2 separate regions of the Homo sapiens genome follow, and region 2 is linked to region 1. The links come from fine-mapping of genetic effects on gene expression. A gene starts in region 1. The other region holds a variant in brackets. All regions are shown on one strand. Distances are from middle to middle. Region 1 holds the start of CDKN2B (cyclin dependent kinase inhibitor 2B). Region 2 has its middle 160 kb from the start of CDKN2B.

Region 1 (5,392 bases):
GTAGACTGAAAAATAATTATAAGCCAGTTTATTACTTTTTTCCAGTTAAGCCTACCATGACAGCTGCTAAAAAAAACACTATGTAGTATAAAGGGTAAAAAGACTCTGAAGTCGCAAAAGTTATACCCACCTCCAACAATGATTAGCTAGTATACAAGTCACTCAAATTCTCTGATCCTTTTGGCTTGTCTGTAAAATTGAAATATGGACACATGCCACAGAGGAGTTTTATGAGTATTAAATGAAACAACAGCTGTAAAGCACTTCGTACAGAGTACACAATAAGTTTGATTTCTCTTCTCGTCTTCTAAATATAGACTATATAATATTCTTTATACAGAGAATATTAGATAAAATCCAATCATATTTGAAAACCAGGTTGAGCAGGTTGGTTTTTCAAAGAAATTCATTGAGCTTCCATAATGTCCTTTCTATTTGACGGGAGAAAAGGGGCTTTGGAAGATCAAGTGTGAAGCTTTAGAATTCTGTCTGGAGCTGGTTAGGACCACCCAGGCCTGAGTATAAGCAAAGCGCTGTCCGTGGTGCTAGTAAGCGCGAATGCCCCCGGCAACGTTTTCCCTACCCAAAGTTGTTTTTCATTCAGTCAACTTGCTTCGCGAAGCTCACACATCTGCCTCGTGCAAGATTCTCAGTCATTTTACTTAGTCATTGGTTCTTTCCCTATCACCATTCTTTATGTCCCCCTCAAAGAAAAACATTATCTTCCATTTCCTTATCAACTCCAAACAGCTTTCATTTTTCTGACATATTTACTACCTAAGAAAATGGCTCAAGAATTGGGTCAGACTATCTTGTCCTAACTTTTCTGATAAGTTTCAGAGAAACTCAAAGGTCAAAACAAGAGCATAAGAGTAAAAGGTAGAGAAATTAAGAAACTGAAGACTAGGAAATGGGGGTTGGATGGGAAAGAAAAAGAAATTGTTATTAATGCTACCCGGTTCCCTTCCCTGTCCAGGTGGATTTCAGCTCTGTTGAGGCTCTGTCAGTAGATTTTCAGCCCTAACCAGCACTTCCATGGTGGTGGCACTTCCACTGCCTTTAAAAGAAAGAGCTTTTTTTAATTCTACAGGGATTTGGGGGATGAGGAGTCAGAGCTAAGGTATCCTAAAAAAAACATGTGAAGACTCTCATTTTGCAATACACAAGCAATTGCCCTCCTGTTAAGACTTTGTCTTCCTCAGCACTCCGAACCAAAATGATTCTGTAAACAAAAATTGTTCACTTTTAGGAGAGGTCCACTTATGCAGTTCCTCACCAAAGTTTTTAGGCAACAAATCCATAACTTGCGGTTCTCTTCCTATCCAATGTAGCATCCGCTGAAATGTTTTAAATATTTTAAGTAATAAATGTTGATTCAAACTCACCTAGGAAGATTAGGAAGGGGAAAAAAAGCACTTGGCATTTAAATCTTCAGAAGAGAATTTAATGACAGGTTCAGCCTGTTTAATGACAAGCCCAGCACCACACCCCTCTCTTATGATGTTTCATTATTACTGCATAAATTTCCTTTATTACTCATGATAAATAAAAATAAGATACCTGACAAAGTGGGTTTAAATAGGTAAGAGTGCAAACAAAGATTTACTGTACAAATATGATGAAACTGGGATCTCAGATTCTTAAAGTATAATTTTTTTTTGTCTTATGTGTGCCAGGTTGCCACTCTCAATCTCGAACTAGTTTTTTTCTCTTTTAAGGGTTGTATCCATAATGCAAAAATGGAAAGAATTAAAAAGCACACGCAAAACATGATTCTCGGGATTTTTCTCTATTTTTATGGTTGACTAATTCAAACAGAAAGACACATCCAAGAGAAAATTGCTAAGTTTGATACAAGTTATGAAACTTGTGAAGCCCAAGTACTGCCTGGGGATGAATTTAACTTGTATGACAGGTGCAGAGCTGTCGCTTTCAGACATCTTAAGAAACACGGAGTTATTTTGAATGACTTTCTCTCGGTCACAAGGGAGCCACCAACGTCTCCACAGTGAAACCAACTGGCTGGCTGAAGGAACAGAAATCCTCTGCTCCGCCTACTGGGGATTAGGAGCTGAGGGCAGTGGTGAACATTCCCAAAATATTAGCCTTGGCTTTACTGGACATCCAGCGAGCAGTGCAGCCAGCATTCCTGGCGGCTCCCTGGCCCAGTCTCTGGCGCATGCGTCCTAGCATCTTTGGGCAGGCTTCCCCGCCCTCGTGACGCGTCGGCCCGGGCCTGGCCTCCCGGCGATCACAGCGGACAGGGGGCGGAGCCTAAGGGGGTGGGGAGACGCCGGCCCCTTGGCCCAGCTGAAAACGGAATTCTTTGCCGGCTGGCTCCCCACTCTGCCAGAGCGAGGCGGGGCAGTGAGGACTCCGCGACGCGTCCGCACCCTGCGGCCAGAGCGGCTTTGAGCTCGGCTGCGTCCGCGCTAGGCGCTTTTTCCCAGAAGCAATCCAGGCGCGCCCGCTGGTTCTTGAGCGCCAGGAAAAGCCCGGAGCTAACGACCGGCCGCTCGGCCACTGCACGGGGCCCCAAGCCGCAGAAGGACGACGGGAGGGTAATGAAGCTGAGCCCAGGTCTCCTAGGAAGGAGAGAGTGCGCCGGAGCAGCGTGGGAAAGAAGGGAAGAGTGTCGTTAAGTTTACGGCCAACGGTGGATTATCCGGGCCGCTGCGCGTCTGGGGGCTGCGGAATGCGCGAGGAGAACAAGGGCATGCCCAGTGGGGGCGGCAGCGATGAGGGTCTGGCCAGCGCCGCGGCGCGGGGACTAGTGGAGAAGGTGCGACAGCTCCTGGAAGCCGGCGCGGATCCCAACGGAGTCAACCGTTTCGGGAGGCGCGCGATCCAGGTAGCTGGGGCCCCAGGGCCTCGCCGGCAGGGGGCGCGCGAACGCGGGGCGCGGCCTCGGCGGATCGGGGCTGGAACCTAGATCGCCGATGTAGATTTGTACAGGAGTCTCCGTTGGCCGGAGGTGTGCATTCCACGCGTAAAACAGGCTTTTACCCAGCAAAAATCCTAAAGAGAGACATTGAAAAACCCACTGTTTAAGCTTTTTTTAGTGGTTTTTGTTCTGCCATCTCATGATCAGAGATGCAAGGAATAGACTGAATTGGGGAGAAAAGGAGAAAAGGAAAGCTTATTTAGGGAAGAAGATTATCTTGTCTGTCTGCTTTCAACGATAAAGATAAGTAAAGTATAAGTTACGCATTCTAGATTGGATTTAAGGAATTCTACAAAATCATAGTACATGGAAAAAATCAATGTAAACTTCTAAGCTACTATATGAAATCTGTTGTATTGTTTTCTCATAGAGGTTAATTGAGAATGAGACGGGATTCCTCAACCACAGTACTTAGTTCCTTTTATGTTAGCAGTGTCTTATGAGTGATGCATAAGAGAAAAAATATATAGTTCTATAGGTTTCTCATTCTTTAATTATCATACTCAGTGCCCAGATTACAAAAATATTCCTGCAGCAACTGTTAGGTCCTTTTTGAATGGCAAAGGATCTTCATAAATAATGCATCTTTATCTTCATTGTTAAAATACACTTATTCAATGTTTAAGTACGAATCCTGCTTTAATTAGTACTGATATTTTTTATTTCTTTTACAATCTCGGACAACTCTTTTGTACTTTACCGTTGGCTAGTGGTCATATTCAGTACTCACCTCACTATCACCCTCTAAAACTAAGCTAATATTAAGGGATCTTGTTAATAGTATAGATTTTAAAGAAGTGTTCATTTCTTTTGAATTCTTAGAATAATGGTATAACAAATGAGGGATTTTTAAAGGAGCAAAAATATTGTAAAGTGCATCTTAAAAACTTAAAATTTTATTAATAATTATAAAAACAAGTTATATATGTAATTCACCATTTTCTGAAATACTAACAGCAGCTATTTTCCCCTTTTTTTCTATGTAAAATATCCTTACATCACTAGTAGATATAACTTATCACGGTTTTTAAGAGATGAAATGAACATTTCTAATATTAATGAAACAAGCCAACAAAACATGAGAAGTATACTGCCTTTCAATTAAATGGTATATTTTAAAGTGCATAAACCCATAACAAATAACTCGATTTTAGACATTTAGTTACCAAAAATTGTCTTATAATTGACTTTAAATATGACAGCAAATGTTTTCATAATGTTCATGTACACAAATGGCTGCTACAGGATTACTCCTGCAAAACATCATTTTTTCTAAGTTATGCATCATCCTGATTGACTGCTAACATCCAAGCTCTATTTATTTATTTATTTATTTTATTTTTTTTGAGATGAGGCCTCACTCTGTCGGACAGGCTGGAGTGCAGTGGCACAATCTCAGCTCACTGCAACCTCTTCCAGGATGCAAGCGATTCTCCTGCCTCAGCCTCCTGAGTTGCTGGGACTACAGGCACGCCCCACCATGCCCAGCTAATTTTTTATTTTTTGTAGTAGAGACGGGATTTCACCATGTTGGCCAGGCTGGTCTCGAACTCCTGACCTCAGGTGATCTGCCTGCTATGGCCTCCCAAAGTGCTGGGATTACAGGCATAAGCCACTGGGCCTGGCCCAAGCTCTTTTTATATAGCAAAATATTTACTGTTTAACATTTTTAAATCTTAGCTATTATAAAATCCTGTAGTATACAAATATAGTTAGTTTTATATTACATTAAAAATATTATAGTCTAAATTTAAAATGATGAACTGTTAAGGAAAAATCATTTATTATAATTTTATAAGATTTTGCATGATTTAATTTACTTTTCCCTTCTAATCTCCAACTTTGGCTCAAATTATCACACTACAAGCCAGTTATGAGCTCAGACACATGACAAACAAAAGCCTTCCGCACGGGATTTGCTATGAGAACTAAATAAATTAAAAAAAAAAGAAAGAAAAAAACTTAGTTGTTTATTTTCTCCCCTAAACCATTACTCCCAACTTCTAACAAACAGTAGTTGACTACCTAATAAATATTTGTAGACCTGGATTATGGAGGAGGGGTCAGCAAGGCAAATAATTTAAAACTTTAAAAGCCGAATAAATTTAACTCTGCCCCTAAATCATTTAACAAAATAGATTCCCATGTTCCAATGGAAATCAAGATTTGTTTTTCCATAATGATGATCATCACTTTACCATCAACTTTCTTGTCTCTGCACGTTTAGAGAATAAAATGGCATTTAATTTGTACTGAGTATAACCTGAAGGTGGGGTGGGAAAGTGGATTGCATCAGCAAATGAAGAAACACCAGACATCAGAGACCTGAACACCTCTGCACTGGGTGAAAACTTTGCAATTAGGTGTTTCTTTAAATGGCTCCACCTGCCTTGCCCCGGCCGGCATCTCCCATACCTGCCCCCACCCTGGCTCTGACCACTCTGCTCT
Region 2 (5,392 bases), 160 kb before region 1:
CCTCCAAACAAATTTTAAAATTTAGCTGGGCATGGTGGCAAACACTTGTAGTCCCAGCTACTTGGAAGGCTGAGGTGGGAGGATCGCTTGAGCCCAGGAGTTCAAGCCCAGCCTGGGCAACATAGTGAGACTCCACCTTTACAAAAAATAAAAAATATAGCTGGATATGATGGCACACAGCTGTAGTCCCAGCAACTCAGGAGGGTGAGGTGAGAGGATCATTTGAGCCAAGGAGTTGGAGGCTACAGTGAGCTATGATCATTTCACTATACTCCAGCCCAGACAATAGAACAAGATCTTGTCTCTTTAAAAGAAAAAAAAAAGTAATAAGTAAATAAATACCATTTTTTTCTAAGAAACTAGTTTTTTTCTTGTCAATCTTAGGTGATATTTAATAAGCTTGGGGCTGTATATATATTAGGTTTCTCTGTTGTTTGGTATATTTATCACCAACCATGGTATATTTATCACCAACCATGGTATATTTATCACCATGACTCCACAATGTACAGGGAAAGACTTCTAAAACTAGAAAGTAAGAAGGAAACGCTCCCTTTTCTGTCCTCAAACAAAATTGTTAACGACCTTCCAAAATTCATTCCAATATTCTTTTTCATCTTCTTTAAACATGGTCATATGGGTTTTGTAAATATTGCCTTCTAAGAAGAAAAGATTGTTCACTAGCAATGAAGGCATTCATTTTTTAATTAGCAAATTAATAAAAACATCAATTAGTAAGTTTCTTTAATGTCAATAATGAAGTTAGGGGACATCAGCCCTTATCACTGACTTATCACACAATAAAAAGGTTGCGTGATAATAGGACAAAAAGGGTTGTGTTCAAATAATCATGCTTATCACCTTAGACTTCCAAGGGGCTATAAAGTGCTCTAGCTATCTTATGCCTCCCCTTCCAAGTGTGAAGCTGATAAGAAGAGCGGTCCTCTCTCTTACTGATTGCAGGCCTAAAACAAAAACAGTCAATTGCCTTTCCTGGCTAACAAAGTCACCTCTAAACTGAGGGTGATATCATAAATTCTTTATTATCTGGAATGGTTAATTTTCTGTGTCAATCTGGCTAGTTGACGGTGCCAAGTGTTTTGTCAAACACCAGGCTAGATGTTGCTGTGATGCTATTTTTTAGATACAATTAACATTTAATTAGTAGACTTTGAGTAAAGCAGGTTGCCTTCCATAATGTGGGTGGGCCTCATCCAATCAGTGGGAGGCTGTAACAGCACAGACTGAGGTTTCCTGAACAGGGAGAAATTCACCTTAAGATTGCAACACAAAAACCCTGGCTGAGTCTCCAGCCTCTTGCCCTGTGGAATTCAGGCTCAATACTACAATATCAACTGTTATCTGAATTTCCAGGCTTCAATCACATAAGCCAATTCATGTATATTCACACACTATTTTAGGGTTTCCAAAGTTTTGGTGAATGAAAAACAAATGACTCTTTTTTAAATTTAAAATAGTTCAAGCAGATGATGTTTCCAATTTCACATTTTATACATCTATAAATAGCACCACATTTTTCTCTCACTTCCTCCTTTGAAATACACAAATGGCTTCCCAACCCTCCAAATCGCTACTGTGGCCTAACTAGGCCCTGTGTGATCTGCCCCAGATAGAAAGTTCAACTAACAGTACCACTATCAACAGACATTTGCACAAATGACTTTCTCCTGCTGGGTATGAACAATCAGTAGAACAAACAGCACCTCAGTCTGTGCCCTTGTGAGCACAGAATTAAAACAGCTGGACATGCATGCTCTTAATCAATCGTTTCCATAGAGTAGAGTATCTGAATGAATTGTCCTTTTCCTAGATAGTTATTTCTATGCAGTCAACTGGGGCCTGTCCTCAGAATCAAATTACCTTGAATTCTGAGAACTTCTGGCTGCCTGATGAAAAGGCTTTATTTATCGGCATTCACTTTTCCAGACTCCATTTCTATAACTGGATCTGTTTCAACCACATGACATTATCATATGAGTGTTAAACTATGACTGTTCTGTTTTTCTAAGGCACACACCCTGATCACTTTGGGGGAACTTGAGAAACACCTTGGTGCCTATGACTAATTAGGATGGCCATCTTGGTCTCATCAGCAGCACATTTTGAAAATTTACTTTATGGTATCATTTTAACTTACTGCCCTAGAGGGTATATTATATCCACTTTTGATCTATTTATTTATTTCACTGTGAGCAGGAAACGTTTTCTGATACAGTCCCTATATTTGGAAAGTAATGCTTCCATTAGGACCTCATGCTCCTCATATACTAACTAAGCATTATTTTCCTTGAATCCATGTGGATTGTCCCTATCTCTGAGCCATCCAGCAGCCTCTCCTAAACTCATCTAATAATCCTTCTATTGTAAACACATTTGGAAGAGGTTAGGTCATCCCATTCCCACCCATTACCAGGAACAGTGCCATGTTTACCTTTTGAGCAATATACTAGTAAAATTTCACATGACAGAAGCAAAAATCTGTAGAAATTAACCAAAAAGAAAGATTAGTCAGAAAATAAATGTCTGGAAAGTTGCAACTGCACCTAAGTTATCAGGGAGACTGTAATACCATATTTCAGGACCTCAACTCACACATGCAGGCACCCACAGACACTTAGGCACACACATGACCACTACAACGACAACAAGAAAAGGGGACAAACTTCACATAATCCTAATCACTTAATAATGCAGGAGAAAACATTTATCTAATTTATCAAAATCTAAATTTGTGGCTATAAGAATTAAATACATCAACAGAAAGAAGAAGGTTTATATAGGACCCAGAAAAAGAGAAGTAAAAAACAAGAAGTGGTCAGAGTACATCTCCTACATCATCCAAGGAGGGGGTGCCTTGAACCTTGAGCTTGGAAATGTTTTTCCACTAGGCAGATAAAAAAGATAATAGTTTATACTCTTATAGTTCCTATTTTATGCCAGGAAAAAGTTTTAATACTATACATTCACTAACTCATTTAATATGCATAACAGTCTATAAGTAGGCACTATTAGTATCCCAATTTTCAGATTTAAAAGCTGAGTCACAAAGAGTTTACTTATATCACTTGCCCAAATCCAAGAGTAGAGCTGGATTTGAATCTAGGCAGTCTGATGCCAGAATTGGCTCTCTAACATTAGAATATAGTAAAAATGGAAAAGACAGCTTCCTTTTATTTTTGGGAAGAGAGAAGAGAAAACAAGCATTTGTTGCAAACTTTTTGATTGCTAAATATC[G/A]TGGCAGAAATTTTACATACATTCTGCTGGCAACAGCCCTATGAGTCATATCATCTGATCCTTATTTTACACTGATAGAAACTAGGCCACTGGGATTTCCTGGAGGATCCAGTTACTTTCTTGGGGATCACTGGGAATTTATAAAAGTAAAAACCAGTGTGTTTGTTCCCTTCATTCATCATAAAACTAAGCAACAAGCAAAGTTCCTTTCACTCATTGCATCAGCAACAAGCAAACTGGCCCTAGCAGGAAGACCGAATCTTGAGACTGTGGTTCATTTCTTCATCTGATATGGATCAATGGATCAGCTGATAAAATACACACACACACACACACACACACACACACACACACAAAGACACAAAGGTAATTCAGTTATCTGTTTTCTGAACTGGTCAAATTGAGATGAGTATGACTTAATAAGACCATATTCTTATTATGTGAGTCAACAGAAAGAGTTCTGTTTAACTAAAAAGATGTCTCAGAATCTACAGAATTGAGCATGTTTTCAATCCATCCAGTTGCTCGGTTAGCACCATGAAGACTGGTTTAGATGTAGGAGATAAGGTTCAAAGTTATAATAAAAATTAAAAATTAAGCGGGAGCAAAGATCAACACCCATGAATCTCTCCATGTATGATGATCCATCCAGAGACCTTCCTTTTAAACAAATTTACATTTTCTTTTAATGACAAAAATCATGTATTTTATAAAAGGTCCTATAGAAAACAAAGATTCAAGTTGGAAGACCCTAAAACTTACAAACCTATGATAATCATGTTAGTGTCTGAGGCTAAGACAGCATTCTACAATGCATATATTTTAGATAACATTTGAATCACACTATGTACATATTCTGGGGTTTTTTACTTCCACTTTATCCTGAATATTTTTCTGTGTTATTAAATATTCTTTGAAACTTAAAGACTGCACAATATTTACAACATGGCTCTCCGGCATGGGCATACCACAATATATCTTCTATTTTTGGACATTTATGTTATTAACCAGTTTTCTCTATCATAAACCAACAAGATGGAGGTTGCAAGGTCACCAACTCATTATTCTGAAAATCGATTCATAGAGGGGAAAAACAAGTGTATACATGCTTTTTCAGCATGAACTGTTTTAGGGTAAAAAATTGTTGGAGAGAGAAAGATTTTCTTTACAGAAAATTACTATCTAATTAATGTGAAATAATCAACAGAGTTAGAAAAATACCATTTTATAAATCTTAATGAAATTATAGATCTAGGAAACAGTCACTAATGAATGTTATAACCATTAGGTAAAATTTCAGTGAGGACCTCGATAATGGAGGACTCACCAGAACCTACTAATAAATCTTAACATCACTAAAAGTGGAGTAACCAGAAGTTACATGCCTTCTGGTGTCGTACAACAGGAGTACAGAATCTCAGATATAAAGTATTCTTGCCAAAAAATAAAAATAGAAATGAGCCTGACTCTAATCAATCCTTCCACTTTAAATACTAGCTGATGGAAAATAAGAGTGATACAGGAGGAAAAAAACAAATGATACCATAAAGTAGCCATCAACTAGATCTAGAATGCGAGACATTCTACAGGACAAAATACTTAATTTATTTATCAAATAAGTAACAGGAGAAAGAGGGAAGGGGAAACTGTTATACATTGAAAGAAACTTAAGAGGCCATATGAATACCACATGCAATATGTAGACCTTGTTTGGATTCTAATGTGAACAAAACAGTTGTAAAAAAGACATTCTTGAGACAATTGAGAAATTTGAGCCTAAACTTGTTCAATTCTCTTAAACTTAATAATAGCCTTTGGTTACTTTTTAAAGCTTTTATTATACAGAGAGCTTACAAATAAAATAATAAGAAGCTTTGGATTTGCTTTAAGGTAATCCTGTAGAGAGAGAGAATAAAATAGATAAAATAAGACTAGAAAAATATTAACAATTTTCAAAACTGGGTAGTGAGTACATAGAGATTTATTATAATACTCTTTCTACTTTTATGTTGATGGAAAATGTCAATAATAAAAAGCTTTTTTAAAATATCAAAATACAAATATATGTACATTATATATTTATATTTTGTTGTTGTTTGTTTGAAATTTCAACTAAAATCATAGAGTATATTTAAGG

The links. PIP is the estimated chance that this variant, and not a neighbour inherited with it, causes the effect. A credible set is the group of variants that fine-mapping cannot tell apart.
Region 2: its variant is the best candidate, but not a certain one, in a credible set for the expression of CDKN2B in whole blood (TOPMed, PIP 0.73).

What each region holds. Positions count from the first base shown.
Region 1 is chr9:22,006,257-22,011,648 of GRCh38, reverse strand. It overlaps CDKN2B (cyclin dependent kinase inhibitor 2B), which reads left to right and starts at 2,344. Exons shown (of 2, transcript NM_004936.4): 1 at 2,344-2,851. The coding sequence starts at 2,696. All of the region lies in intron 1 of CDKN2B-AS1 (CDKN2B and CDKN2A antisense cis and trans regulatory RNA 1), which reads right to left. RefSeq lists silencers at 385-679, 2,803-3,002.
Region 2 is chr9:22,167,389-22,172,780 of GRCh38, reverse strand. No RefSeq gene overlaps it. Among named protein-coding and RNA genes, the nearest start is that of CDKN2B, 160 kb to the right of the region's middle. The variant G/A (reference allele first, on the strand shown) is at 3,256.